Homo sapiens: one gene and its partners. The protein of the gene in region 1 purifies or fractionates together with the protein of each later gene. This does not show direct contact. Each region holds a gene or a part of one and is shown in the gene's direction. Other genes may lie near its edges.

What was found.
Region 2: the proteins of PANX1 (region 1) and POC5 purify together in Homo sapiens (co-immunoprecipitation; one large-scale study listed by IntAct). This does not show direct contact.
Region 3: the proteins of PANX1 (region 1) and SLC2A12 purify together in Homo sapiens (co-immunoprecipitation; one large-scale study listed by IntAct). This does not show direct contact.
Region 4: the proteins of PANX1 (region 1) and HTR1E purify together in Homo sapiens (co-immunoprecipitation; one large-scale study listed by IntAct). This does not show direct contact.

The regions. Positions count from the first base shown.
Region 1 is NC_000011.10:94,135,333-94,138,904, forward strand, and holds part of PANX1 (pannexin-1), read left to right. Parts: intron 1-3,572. UniProt on the Homo sapiens protein: Ion channel involved in a variety of physiological functions such as blood pressure regulation, apoptotic cell clearance and oogenesis.
Region 2 is NC_000005.10:75,700,382-75,703,953, reverse strand, and holds part of POC5 (centrosomal protein POC5), read left to right. Parts: intron 1-1,143; coding exon 1,144-1,349; intron 1,350-3,572. UniProt on the Homo sapiens protein: Essential for the assembly of the distal half of centrioles, required for centriole elongation. Acts as a negative regulator of centriole elongation.
Region 3 is NC_000006.12:134,032,111-134,035,682, reverse strand, and holds part of SLC2A12 (solute carrier family 2, facilitated glucose transporter member 12), read left to right. Parts: intron 1-3,572. UniProt on the Homo sapiens protein: Insulin-independent facilitative glucose transporter.
Region 4 is NC_000006.12:86,940,478-86,944,049, forward strand, and holds part of HTR1E (5-hydroxytryptamine receptor 1E), read left to right. Parts: intron 1-3,572. UniProt on the Homo sapiens protein: G-protein coupled receptor for 5-hydroxytryptamine (serotonin). Also functions as a receptor for various alkaloids and psychoactive substances.

The DNA.
Region 1 (3,572 bases):
GATATAACTGCAGCTGCTTCCAATATAGTTTGCTTGGAGTTCCCCTTTCATTTCCTGCAACTGAGTCAGCGGCTGGGTGGCTTAAGTTATCTGCTCTGTTGTGGCTGAATTTAGACCTGTCTTTGGGAATATCTTCAGGCTGCTTTTTAGCATGTACCAGCTGGCAAAGCAGATCGATTCTTTTCAGGGTTGTCTATCAGAGTGGGCCAATATTTAGGGTCTCATGGCATAGGTCCTATAATAGAACATCTTCAACTCACACTAAACCAAAGAGCCAAGAGAGACTCCTAACCCCTCCAGAAGGATGCATGCTGTCCAGAGAGTCTACTGTTGGATACATGTTTTACTTTGTTAATATTTTTCTTGTACAAGTAGTAGCTAAATACATCATCATGGTAAAGGATTCATAAATCTCTTTCACTATGTGCTGAAGGTAGGTGGACACTTTGTGCAGCCTTATTGCTGTACTTTGTCTGCATTAGCATAACGTGTACACCTTATTTTATTTTTTAAAACAAATCGAGTCATACCATAGTGGCTTGCTTTTTCTCACTTAGTATGTTTGGAGAGCTTTCCGTGCCAGTACATAGGTGTCACCTCACTGTTTTATAATAGAACAGTATTCCATAGCTTAGAATATACTTACAATTCATCTAAGCAGTCCCCTAATGATGGACATTTACTTTCTTTCAAAATTTCTACTCACACATAAAGCTTGTTTGCATGAAAATCTTCGTAAATATTTCTCTCCTCCCAGCATTAAAAGGAAAGGAGACTAGTCGCAGCAGTATCAGTTTCCAGAAGGATGACATCATTTTCCGAATAGTTTTGCATTCCTGCGTTCCTATTTGAAATAAGTGGAAGAAAAAAAAAAACCACTGCCCTGTACACTATCCAGCTCTGACTCCCTCAAAATGTGACTGCATTAGAAGTTTGGAAGAAGCATTTTGATGTGCTCTTGGTTTTAAGAAAGAAAGGGCCTCCTTCAGGGGGTAGAATTGCAACTTTAAGTAGAACTTCATGATACATGTTCTCCTAACACTGTAAGTTTCCTTCCTAACATTTACCATAACTTGAAGTTAGGTAATTACTTGCATACTTATCTGTTGAATACTGTAAGTTCATTTAGGGCAGGGACCATGTGTCCTTAAAACTTGATACATATCGGCCGGGCGCGGTGACTCATGCTTGTAATCCCAGCACTTTGGGAGGCCGACGTGGGCGGATCACGAGGTCAGGAGATCGAGACCACGGTGAAACCCTGTCTCTACTAAAAATACAAAAAATTAGCCAGGTGTGGTGGCGGGCGCCTGTAGTCCCAGCTACTCAGGAGGCTGAGGCAGGAGAATGGCGTGAACCCGGGAGGCGGAGCTTGCAGTGAGCCGAGATCGCGCCACTGCACTCCAGCCTGGGCGACAGAGCGAGACTCCGTCTCAAAAAAAAAGAAAAAAACTTGATACATAGAAGTATTAGGCAGCTCTCACATTGCTATGAAGAAATACCAGAGACTGGGTTATTTTTAAAGAAAAGTTTATGTGGCTCATGGTTTTGTGGGCTGTACAGGAAACCTAGTGGCTTCTGCTTGGCTTCTGGGGAGGCCTCGGGAAACACAGTCATGGCGGAAGGCAAACAGGGAGCAGGCACGTCTTATATGGCAGGAGCAGGAGCAAGAGAGAATGGGGGGAGGTGCTACACATTTCTAGTGGCTCACACCTGTAATCCCAGCACTTTGGGAGGCCAAGGCGAGCGGATCATGAGGTCAAGAGATCGAGACCATCCTGGCCAACGTGATGAAACTCCGTCTCTACTTAAAATACAAAAATTAGCTGGGTGTGGTGGCGCATGCCTGTAGTCCCAGCTACTTGGGAGGCTGAGACAGGAGAATCGCTTGAACGCGGGAGGCAGAGGTTGCAGTGAGCTGAGATCATGCCACTGTACTCCAGCCTGGCGACAGAGCGAGACTCCTTCTCAAAATATATAGACAGATAGATAAAACCTGAAAATAGGCCTTAGGACCTTCATGGACTCTAGGTTTGGATTAGCAACATCCCTTTAAAAAACCATGCAAACACCTTTTTTCTGCAGCTGGTTGCTTTCTTGGATTGCTTCCTTGTCAAACCCCTAACTGAGGCAGCGAGAGCTTGGTCCAAAGTGGAGAAAGGGAGGCAATTTGGGGGCATTTGCCCTGGCTAAGCTAGGAACTCTGGGCGAGGCAGGCCCCGCTGCATGCTGTGGGGTTTCTGGGGGCAGCAGGGAGACATTAGTTACTTGGGGAGAAGGGGGCCTAAAGAGAATCTACCATCTGCTTGGTACCAGGCACACCTAGTTCTGTGGGGGGTGAAAGGGGTGGTGGGGAGGGGACGCTGTTGTTTTTTAATAAATTCTCTATAAAGCTCACACTCCTTTTTAAAATATAAATATTTATATATGTATATTATATCATTATAAAGATAAAACTTACTGTAGAAAATATGGAAAATACAGAAGAGAAAATAGCAGTACATCTATAATACTACCAGGGATAACTACTATTCTTGAAAAACCAAACACTAAGTCAAGGCCATGTTACCATGTTCCTAAATTGTTGTACATGATTTTTTTTGTTGGCAGTGACATGGAATGTTGTGCACGTGTCAAAATTTAACTGTTTCACAAGTTTTGTAATATAAATAGCATTGTGAAGAACACTCCTGTACATAATAAACCACCTCTCTAAAGATCTCAGTATTTCAAGTGATTGTATAATTCTAATTACAAGGTCAAAGTATACATAGACATTTTTAAGATTTGACTGGTGTGGTTGGGTTGCCCTCTGGATAGACCCCCAATGGATACTTCTCCCCGCAGCTGAAGGAGTGGCTTTCCCCACAGCTGGCAAAAGTTAGTGGATTATCGTCCACAGCTTAATAGGTGAACAAAGGTGTGCCATTGTTTTAAGTCGCATTTATTCAGTTACGGCATTGAATGTTTTTTCGTATGTATTTTTTCCATTTATATAATTCTGTGAATTGTCTGTTCTTATCTTTTGCTTATTTTTCCAAGGGGATGTTGGTTTCTCAATGGGTTTTATTAACTATTTCTATGTTTCAAATATTTTCTAGCTAGCCTTTATTGTATTTTCTTTTCCGGTTGTCCGTTTCCTTTGAATTCTGTTTATGTTAAGCATTTTTGTTTTTTAATTTTTAATTTTTGTTGGTATGTAAAGGTATATATTCATGGGGTATGTGAGATATTTTGACACAGGCATACAATGTGTAATAATCACATCAGGAGAAATTGGGTATCCATCTCCTCAAGTATTTATCCTTCGTTACAAACAATCCAGTTGTACTCTTTCAGTTATCTTAAAATGTAAAATTAAATTATTATTGACTACAGTCACTCTATTGTGCCATCAAATACTGGATCTTATTCATTCTATTTTTATGCCCATTAACCATCCCCATTTCCCCTGACAGCCATCCCTCAGTAACCTTTACAGTATAAGTTTTGATAAGCAGAAGTTATTTTAAGTCATCAAAACTACCCATCTTTTAATTATTTCTTCAGTTGCATTATGATTAGACTGTCAT
Region 2 (3,572 bases), on another chromosome or scaffold:
TTGAACTCCTGACCTCATGATTCGCCCACTTCAGCCTCCCAAAGTGCGGGGATTACAGGCATGAGCCACCGTGCCCAGCCTTTCAGTGCTTTTTTAGAAATAGATACCTGTTCTCTTTAGGGCCCTGACTCTCCCCCACCTCCCTGGATATGGGCAGGGGATGAGCGTTTTATATATATGCACATACATATAGAGATGTGTACATTTCTCACCTCTACATTGAAGCCTAACAGTGTACTTAACAACAGAGTATCTGCAAAACTAAATTATGAGTCTCTTTCTACTTAAATTGTTTAATTTTAATAGGTTTTTTGTTTGTTTTTGTTTTTGGAGACAGAGTCTCATTCTGTCACAGGCTGGAGTGCAGTGGCACGATCTCGGCTCACTGCAACCTCTGCCTCCCTGGTTCAAGCAATTCTCCTGCCTCAGCTTCCCGAGTAGCTGGGACTATAGGTGCGTGCCACCACACCCAGCTAATTTTTGTATTTTTAGTAGAGATGGGGTTTCACCTTGTTGGCCAGGATGGTCTCAATCTCTGGACCTCATGATTCACCCGCCTCGGCCTCCCAAAGTGCTAGGATTACAGGCATGAGCCACCGCGCCCGGCCGAATTTTAATAGTATTAAAACCAATCCCAGTGTTAAACTTACAGAGTAATATTGACCTATATACAACCACACTGACCTTGGTCAATTACTTAACTTTTTCTGAACCTCAGTTTCTCATCAGTAAAATGGAGATAATAATACCTATTTTTTAGGGTAGCATGTGTTATGAGAACTAATCTTTATAATGTTTTTATTACAGAAACAGAAAGCACTTCATTAATGGTGATATGATACAGATGATGATAGTTTCACCTCAGGCTGGACCTGGATATATGAAGGATCCTTATCTGGGATAGAGGTCATTTGCTGGGAGAGAAGGGATTGGGAGTATAGGAGGTATCTCATGCCAGTCTGTGCTAAATCACTGACAATACTGAAATTAAAAATAGATTAAGGTACACCTGAAAGGTAGTTTCTCTGCATTTTTTCTCAGCCTCCATAAGTAGCAGACGTCTTTTAGCCTTCCAGTATGGTTCCTTACCAACTTGAGTTATTTTCAATTTGGCTTGACAGCTACAACTTTTCTTTTATTCAGAGTCATCACCAGTGTTATCGCCAAGGAAGCCTTCTCACCCAGTCATGGATTTTTTCAGTTCACATCTTTTAGCTGACTCTTCCTCACCAGCAACAAATTCTAGTCATACAGATGCCCATGAAATACTTGTGAGCGATTTTCTTGTTTCTGATGAAAACCTTCAGAAGATGGAAAATGTGCTTGATCTTTGGAGTTCAGGTCTTAAGGTACGGTACAGCAGTTCTTCAATTACAGTTGTTTAGTATGTAATGTAATAGTTTTACTCTCATTTATACTGTTTTGTTTTTTTGAGTTAAACTTTCTAAAAATCTTTTGTTTCCTGAGATCAGTTTAGTGTCTTAAGTCTTGCTTCTCAATCTTTAATGTACTTACGAATCATAGCGGGAGCCTGTTAAACTACAGCTTCATATGCAGTAGGTCTTCAGCAGGGCCTAAGATCGTGCTTCTTTTTTTCTTTTTTTGACTCTTGTTTGTTTGTTTGATTTTACTTTAAGTTCTGGGATACATGTGGTGAACATGCAGGTTTGTTACATAGGTATACATGTGCCATGGTGGTTTGCTGCACCTATCAACCTGTCATCTAGGTTTCAAGCCCCACATGCATTAGGTATGTGTCCTAATGCTCTCCCTCCCCTTACCCTCCACCCCCTGACAGGCCCCGGTGTGTGATGTTCCCCTCCATGTGTCCATGTGTTCTCATTTCTGTCAAGCTCCCAGGTGTTGCTACTGGTTCAGAAACTGTACTTTGAGTTGCCAGGTTTTAAGTGGTTGCTGGAACGGTTCTACATGCTCCATTGAATTTCACAGATACTTTGAATGGCTCAGCCTGTGTGTAACTGAGACATACTGTGCCTTTACCATATCGTAGTTGTGACTAATAGAAATGTCTCCTTTTATGCAATAACGAAAGATCCAATTTTAGCAATGGATATTCATTTTATAGCCACTCCTATAGCAACTATGATGTGTAAGTGATAAAACTATAAAAGTTGATTTTTATTTTGATACTACTGGCCTTTAAGTAAAACAAAGTATTGCAGAAATAGTAAGTGGGTTTTATTTATTTATTTATTTATTTATTTTTATTATTATTATACTTTAAGTTTTAGGGTACATGTACACAATGTGCAGGTTAGTTACATATGTATACATGTGCCATGCTGGTGCGCTGCACCCACTAACTCATCATCTAGCATTAGGTATATCTCCCAATGCTATCCCTCCCCCCTCCCCCCACCCAACAACAGTCCCCAGAGTGTGATGTTCCCCTTCCTGTGTCCATGTGTTCTCCTTGTTCAATTCCCACCTATCAGTGAGAATATGCGGTGTTGGGTTTTTTGTTCTTGCGATAGTTTACTGAGAATGATGATTTCCAGTTTCATCCATGTCCCTACAAAGGACATGAACTCATCATTTTTTATGGCTGCATAGTATTCCATGGTGTATATGTGCCACATTTTCTTAATCCAGTCTATCATTGTTGGACATTTGGGTTGGTTCCAAGTCTTTGCTATTGTGAATAATGCCGCAATAAACATACGTGTGCATGTGTCTTTATAGCCGCATGATTTATAGTCCTTTGGGTATATACCCCGTAATGGGATGGCTGGGTCAAATGGTATTTGTAGTTCTAGATCCCTGAGGAATCGCCACACTGACTTCCACAATGGTTGAACTAGTTTACAGTCCCACCAACAGTGTAAAAGTGTTCCTATTTCTCCACATCCTCTCCAGCACCTGTTGTTTCCTGACTTTTTAATGATTGCCATTCTAACTGGTGTGAGATGGTATCTCATTGTGGTTTTGATTTGCATTTCTCTGATGGCCAGTGATGGTGAGCATTTTTTCATGTGTTTTTTGGCTGCATAAATGTCTTCTTTTGAGAAGTGTCTGTTCATGTCCTTTGCCCACTTTTTGATGGGGTTGTTTGCTTTTTTCTTGTAAATTTGTTTGAGTTCATTGTAGATTCTGGATATTAGCCCTTTGTCAGATAAGTAGGTTGTGAAAATTTTCTCCCGTTTTGTAGGTTGCCTGTTCACTCTGATGGTAGTTTGTTTTGCTGTGCAGAAGCTCTTTAGTTTAATTAGATCCCATTTGTCAATTTTGGCTTTTGTTGCCATTGCTTTTGGTGTTTTAGACATGAAGTCCTTGCCCATGCCTGTGTCCTGAATGGTAATGCCTAGGTTTTCTTCTAGGGTTTTTATGGTTTTAGGTCTAACATTTAAGTCTTTAATCCATCTTGAATTGATTTTTGTATAAGGTGTAAGGAAGGGATCCAGTTTCAGCTTTCTACATATGGCTAGCCAGTTTTCCCAGCACCATTTATTAAATAGGGAATCCTTTCCTCATTGCTTGTTTTTCTCAGGTTTGTCAAAGATCAGATAGTTGTAGATAAGCGGCATTATTTCTGAGGGCTCTGTTCTGTTCCA
Region 3 (3,572 bases), on another chromosome or scaffold:
AGCTAACACTCCTATCACAGGAGACAGAGTGACAAGAGAAAAGCATAACAAATTTAGTTAATCAAAGTTTGATGTGACATGGGAGGCTTTCAAAATGAAGATCTAAAGACTCAGGGAAAAATGTCTGATTTTATGCTTAGGTTTGATGAAGAAAGGATGGGCGTGTAGAAATGTGATTGAACAAAAGGGTATGAGTCAATAGTAATAAACTGAAACAGAAACCCAGCAAGGCCTGTCCAGATTTTTTGGGCCTCACTGTGTGGCATTTCTTCCTCCTGGGCAGAGGGCAGGACTCCCATGAAATAAGGTTTTCAAGGGAAAAGGGAGAGAGTGACCTTTTTAGGTTTTATGATTTGCTTTGGGGCGGAGTGGTTCTGGTTTCTGAGACCCACCTTGGGGAAAGGAATTCTGTTTTCCATGACTTGCTTCAGGGGAAAATGCGAGAGGGTCAGAAAGACCTTGTTTCTGGCTGATATCCTACAGCCAGCTGAAAAGCATGCACACACAGTTTTTTTTTTTTTTTTTTTTTTTGTCAGGCAGCCAGCGGCCTTTCCTATGTTCCCATGTCTAGTTCAAAGTACTCAGCACACCAATGTGCCGTACTTTGGGGTATCTTATTCCGAGCCCCAACAGCAGGAAGAAGACAGGATAGGCATAACAAAACTGCCTATGGGGTACCACTTACAAGCCTCCAGGTAGTTTCCACTTCTGTAATGTCCACAAAAAGCCAAGAATTCCCCATGGCACTTTTTGGGAGAACTGGGGTGTAAAGGAAGGGCCCCTGTGAAGCAAAGCCATGAGCAAAATGACTGGGAATGCTCTACTTCATCATTATTAAAGGCAGACTGACTTGAAAGCTGGGTATTTTTTGGAAAAGTGCTAATTGTGAATCCTCATCTTACTCTGTCCTTCACCACTGACAACTTCTCCTCAGTCCACGTGGCTGCCCAAACTCTCACCTCTGTGTGTAGACAAACACAAACCCCACCTTCCTGCCAGTGCTTTAACCCACATTCTGATCTCTTGCTTCCTGTTCACTGCCAGATTTCTTAGAAAAAGGTATCTCTACTTTCCAGCATCCATAGGATAGCATCTTGCTCTTGTCATGGCTAACCAACACACAAGAAAAACCCACTCCTTATGCCTCTCTTTGTAAAGTAGCACCAGGAAAACTTCCTGTGATGGAAGTCTTGAAGTATCAGAGTCACAATCTCAGAAGCGCTAAGGACTAGCCTTATACAGTGAATTAGAATTCAAAACCCCAAATGGAAAGGCTGAGGATCAAACAGCAGTCCTAAATATGAGTAGTAAGGGAAGGGGAAAAGCTAGTTTGGGGCAGTATCCCTTAAAGCATATAATAGGGAAGATATTAAAATTCAGACAACTGAGACCACAGCTAAATTCTGTAACATATAACTCCATGTTGGTAAGCCGTCCATGTGGGACTAGGGTTCTAGAATGATCTTGTACAAGGTTTTAACCTCTTAAAGGCAAATTGCCCAGAGACAGGAAGATAGAAAGATGGATAGCAAGAAAGAGATATATGTTATCATATAGAAAATTGTAAAAGGTTTTTATGATTCATATAAAAATAATTCCTTAATGTCTCTGAAGAATTATACTCCATGGGTTTCAAGGGGAACGTTGACAAACTGGGATGGCTTCCAGACCCTTTGCACATATTCCCATTTGTCAGTGTGCTATGAGTCCCGGCCCGAGAAACCAGGCAAATGATCTAAGTCCAGAAAGCAGCAGAAGAGGTTGGGTCCCTCTTCTGTCAGGAGCTCTTTCCTCCAGACAGAGAAGCTAGCACTTAGCAAACCACTTCAGGCTCTCTAAGGTAAGATAATGGAGCACAGAAGGAAGGGACTCCTGCATCTCAAGGCATCTTTCTCATTGTAGGGACACAGTATTTTCCATCTCATGAAAGAGGAAAACAAGAAAGGAAGAGGAGAAGCACAGGGTGGCAAGGACAATCTTCTTCTGCTATTAAAGCAGTTATGGCATTGATTCCCCTGCATCCTTAACTCCGCAGCCCCAGGTGCCCTCTGTCACACCACATGCCCTTCCCAGGTCCTTCACTCAGTCTGGCCTCCCAGGTGGTCCATTCTCCAAATTCACTTATTTCTCCAATCAGAATATCAGAGACCAGTCCTCAATTGCCAAAACACATACACTAATCAACACAGCAAACATAGAAAAAATGAACAATGACAAGCAGAGATAAGAATAATACAATATTCTTATCCAAATGTGAAGATTTGACCTAATTCTCCTTGTGGTAGAGGAATTCATTGTTGAGGATTTTAAGATCACATAGGAAAAGGAATATGGAAACCGTGGACATGAATGAACCTATAAGAGAGTACTTTAAAGTCATTTTGCATGCCAAAAAAGTCAAACAGCACACAAAATTAATAAATAATAGGTAATAAAGATATCATCAGAATGTTAAGTTTTTTGGCCCCATTATACTTGGAACACAATGAAAAGTCATCACTGTGACCGACAAGGCCCTACTTGAAGTGCCCCCTCTGTACTTACCCAAATTCACTTTAAGCCCTTTCCGTCCTACCTCTCCAGGCTCACAATGTGCCCCACATGTTATATGCTGGCCATCTGACAGTTCCTAAAACATAATGAGAACTTTCCTGTCCTAAGGCCTTGGAAATTACTTTCTCCTGGGCCTGAAATACTCTTCCCTCTGTTGCTTTTTTGTTTTGTTTTGTTTCTATTTTGACAAGTTGCAAACATATAACAAACATCTGTGTTCCTACCACCAAAAATTAAGTTATTTATATATATAATATATGTAATATATTATATAAATATATATTTATATATAAATAATATATAATTTATATATATAGATATAAATTATATATATATAATATATATATATAGCAGTGAAACAGAACAAATGTGGTATCAGAGCCACAATCTCAGAAGCATTAAGGACTAGCCTTATACAGTGAATTAGAATTCAAAACCCCGAATGGACAGGCTGAGGATCAAACAGTAGTCCTAAGTATCAGTAGTAAAGGAAGTGGGAAAGCTAGTTTGGGGCAGTGTCCCTTAAAGCATATAATAGGGAAGATATTAAAATTCAGGCAACTGAGACCACAGCTAAATTCTGTAGCATATAACTCCATGTTGGTATATATGCTATATATATATAGCAGTGAAACAGAACAAATATATATATATATATATAAAAATATATATATATATATTTATATATATATATATATATATAAATATATATATATATATATATTTCTCCCTGTACCCAGGTAAATGCCTGCCATGTAACAGTGCCAAATATTTTGTTTTCTGATTAGCTAGATAAATTGCTGATTTAATTTCAGTTTACTGGGTTTTGTTCAAAATGCTCATAAATTTGCTTTATTTCTTGTGGATTATTGCACCTTTATTTGCTCCTCCATCTAAATATTCAGTGCTTTTTTCCCCTTATTTTTGGGGCTGCCAATTCCCATAGCCTACTAGGATCCTGGAGATGGAAAATACCTTGAGTATTTGTGGTAGAGCTTTAGATCACCTTTATTTGACCT
Region 4 (3,572 bases), on another chromosome or scaffold:
GTGAGCCAAGTTTGTGCCACGGCACTACAGCCTAGGTGACAGAGCAAGGCCTTGTCTCAAAAAAAGAAAAGAAAAGAAAGAAAAAGAAAGTAGGTCTCTTTGCAGAAAGCCTCAGGCCCTGAACTTTTGTGTCATCTTCTCATTACTCAAGTCTAATTCCCTACATCTCACTTTTACACACAGATCATTTTTTTCATGTTTGTTTTGATTGCCCACCCTGGAATTCTATTTCTGCACTACCCTTTAAAAGTGAAAGATCAAATCTAACGCTCTAATGTGGGAAAGCATTCCCTCTATTTCTACAAGCTTATTTACACAAAAAAATAAGCTTGAGACTGATCAAAAGCTGAATTTCTACCAAATAGGAACTTACTTTTTATGCCGTAAATTATCAAGGCCATCTCAAGGCAGAGGTGAGTTTAGCATCTCATGCTTTATGCTCCTTTCTTCTGCACCTACCAGATTTTTATTACATGTGAAATTATATGAACATAAACCCCAGGGAAACATTGAAGATGAGTGTGCCGTCACAAGTGACGAGGGGACAGATGAACAGGGAAGAGAAATGGGGCAGCAGCACTTTAGAGTGACTTACTTCTCTCTTGTTTTCTCCTCCCTGAATCATTTTCTAGAACCAGTATTGTGGCCCCTAAAATTTGGGGCTTAGGTCAGTCAACTTACCAAAGTTCATCTTCCTGGTGATGAAAGGACTTTCATCAAAATCCCAGCTACTTTTTATTCGTTCCCACATTTTGTGGATTAAGAAACTGAGAACCAGAATTTATAGAGATCACTCAATCAATTGGCATATTCCCGGATCACAACAAATTGATAAAATTCTTGAGAACCCTCTTTCTAATACAGATTGACTATAATTTTGTCTTTCATTTTTAGTTCTCTTATTTTGTCTCATGCACTGTGGATTATCTGGTTTACTGCAGTCCTTACCTGAATAGATGTCAGTGTTTTGATCCCATTGTTGTATTCCCCTAAAACACGTCAAATGAAAAACTGGACACTTTAATAGGTTTATTGTTAGCACTCTCTCATGCTGATCAATTCTCAACACATGCAGTTGTAGGATTAGGAAGACAAAATCCTTTAGAAGAAGCTATGAAACCTAATCCTTCTGCATCTGGATCATTTTAAACTACAAGTTGTAAGAGGAATGAGCATCTCTGGATTCTAGTTATCAGTGCAGACCAGATGGAAGGTCTTTATGAAATCTGGTATGAGAAGGAAAGCATTTTATAGCAAGAAGAAAATATTTTGAGAAATAGCTACCAGCAGCAGCAGCTAGCAGTTCTAAAACTCTCAGATCCTCCTAATGACCCCATTAGGGAGGGAGGAAGGGAGCAAGGAAGGAAGGAATGAAGGAAGGAAAGAAGAAAGGAAGGAAGGAAGGAAGGAAGGGAAGGAGGGAAGGAGGGAAGTGTTATAAATATTGGTCAGGGAAAAGTTTTATTATTAATGACAGATTAAATAATTAGCTACTAGGAAAATTCAAGGGGATACATAAAAATGCCATTAGAAAGAATAAGAGAACCCAGTAAGGTGGCTAGCTACAATAGCTTGCCTGGTTAGCGACAATATAATCATAGGGATTTATATTACGCTTGTACACTGTTGGGCAGAAAACATGCCTGAGAGGTATAAAAGATGCTGTTAGCATCCAAGAAAAATGGGAAAGGAAAGCCCACCTCATCTGAGGAAGATGGAGGAAGAAGAACCTACAGAAAAGGATTCCACATTCCAAACTCATCCCTCTGAATTCAGTAATATTTATCCTTATATGATTTCTGACAGTGTAGTTTGTCATTGTAATTAATTCTTTCCTGTAAGTAAACAAGAATTGTATACTTACTTAAGTACCTTACATTTTAAACTTTATTACATAGTCCTAATTTTAATGTTGAACTCTGCCCTAGTCAAGGAAGTATTTGTTACCTAACACAAGAATTTGATATACAGTCATCCATAAACACTATCCTACCATATAGTTCATCATAATTTAACATTCAAAGAAAGAAGCATGATTTCCTCTTTTATTATGCTTTCATTTGAGCCATTTTAACTTTCTTACCATTCTTTCCTTCTGAACCTAATTCAATTCCTTACACAATGCTCTAAAAAATCAAGGATTAAATATGTAACTTAATTTATAATTAGCAAATACATCATTTACAAGATGCATTCATATTGGCAAGCATATTTTATTTCATAGATTGTAAACTGGTAAAACAATGTAATCTCCTCACCCTCTCTGCAATACAGTAAGCCTGTTTCTAAGACCATCAAGGTTTTACTTTATGTCCGAGGCATTGGAGAACCAGACTGTACTGACCCCAGGGTTTGGTGACTTACATATAAATGAAGCATCTTACCAAGAAGGGATGAAAAATGACTTTAGAGGAAGCAAAAGTCTCAAAGCTCACAAGACTTGATTACTTTCAGCTTGGTGACAGAGGCAATGCTCTTGTGATGCAGATGGAGTAATTTCTCCAGCACAAAAGATGTCCAGCCGGGTCCCATTGGCTTTGAGATAATCTCTCACATTGCATTAAGTGTACTGAGTACCCTTTCTCAGACTTATGTACCATTAGCATGCATTTAATTAACAGTTAATGATTACATAGTATTGTTACTATTACCACATAGTCCTGTTATATTAAAATACATGAAATTTGTAGCTATGTTTTGCCTGTTTAGTAAAATGAGTCTGAATCTAAGGGTGAGAGGGTCTACACACAGCCAAGAGGATGGGGTATTAACCCAGGCCTGTGTGAAGATATTTGCATCTCATGGAATGCTCTCCAGAGAACAAACTGACCTACCCTGTGCATGTCAGCTAAGCTCCCGCCAGCTTCCTCAGGGCTTGCTGAATGTACAGTGAGTGCCACAGTGCCAGCGTGGCAGTGAAGCACAGGCCCAACTCTACGGACCTGGGGTCAGAAGGCCTGGGTTAATACCCCATTCTCTTGGCTGTATGAGCTGCATGGTCTGTCATCGTTACAATGGGGACAATAATACATGCCCTGTCTACCTCAGCCTCCTTTCAGGGAAGTTTCTCAAAACAGAATATGCTATTGTGATTCATTGTCACCTGTGATGTCAAACTGCACCTTGTGTTATACTACTAGGGGGTAACACAGCATGGGGCTCAAGCCCAAGCTCTCGAGTCCAGAAAGCCAGGTTCATATCCCAGCTCTGCCATTCATTAACTGCTTTCACATCTCTAAACCTCAGTTTCCTCATTTGTTGGGGCTCACATAACAGTACTATGTCATAGGGCTATTTATGAGGATTAAATGTGTGTATTCATTATTGCTAAATAATAAATTACCCCAAAACCTAATGGCTTAAAGCAACAGATTTTTATTATCTCTATGATCATAGTTCCATGGGTTGGGAATCTGGGTATGGCTTAGCTAGGTCCTCTGGCTCAGGTCTGTCACTCACAGGCTGCAAAGTTTCAGCCGAGACTGCAGACATCTCAAGGCTCAACTGGGGAAAGGTAACGCTTCCAAGCTCGCTCACGTGGCTGTTGACAAGCCTCAGGTCCCAGCTGGCTG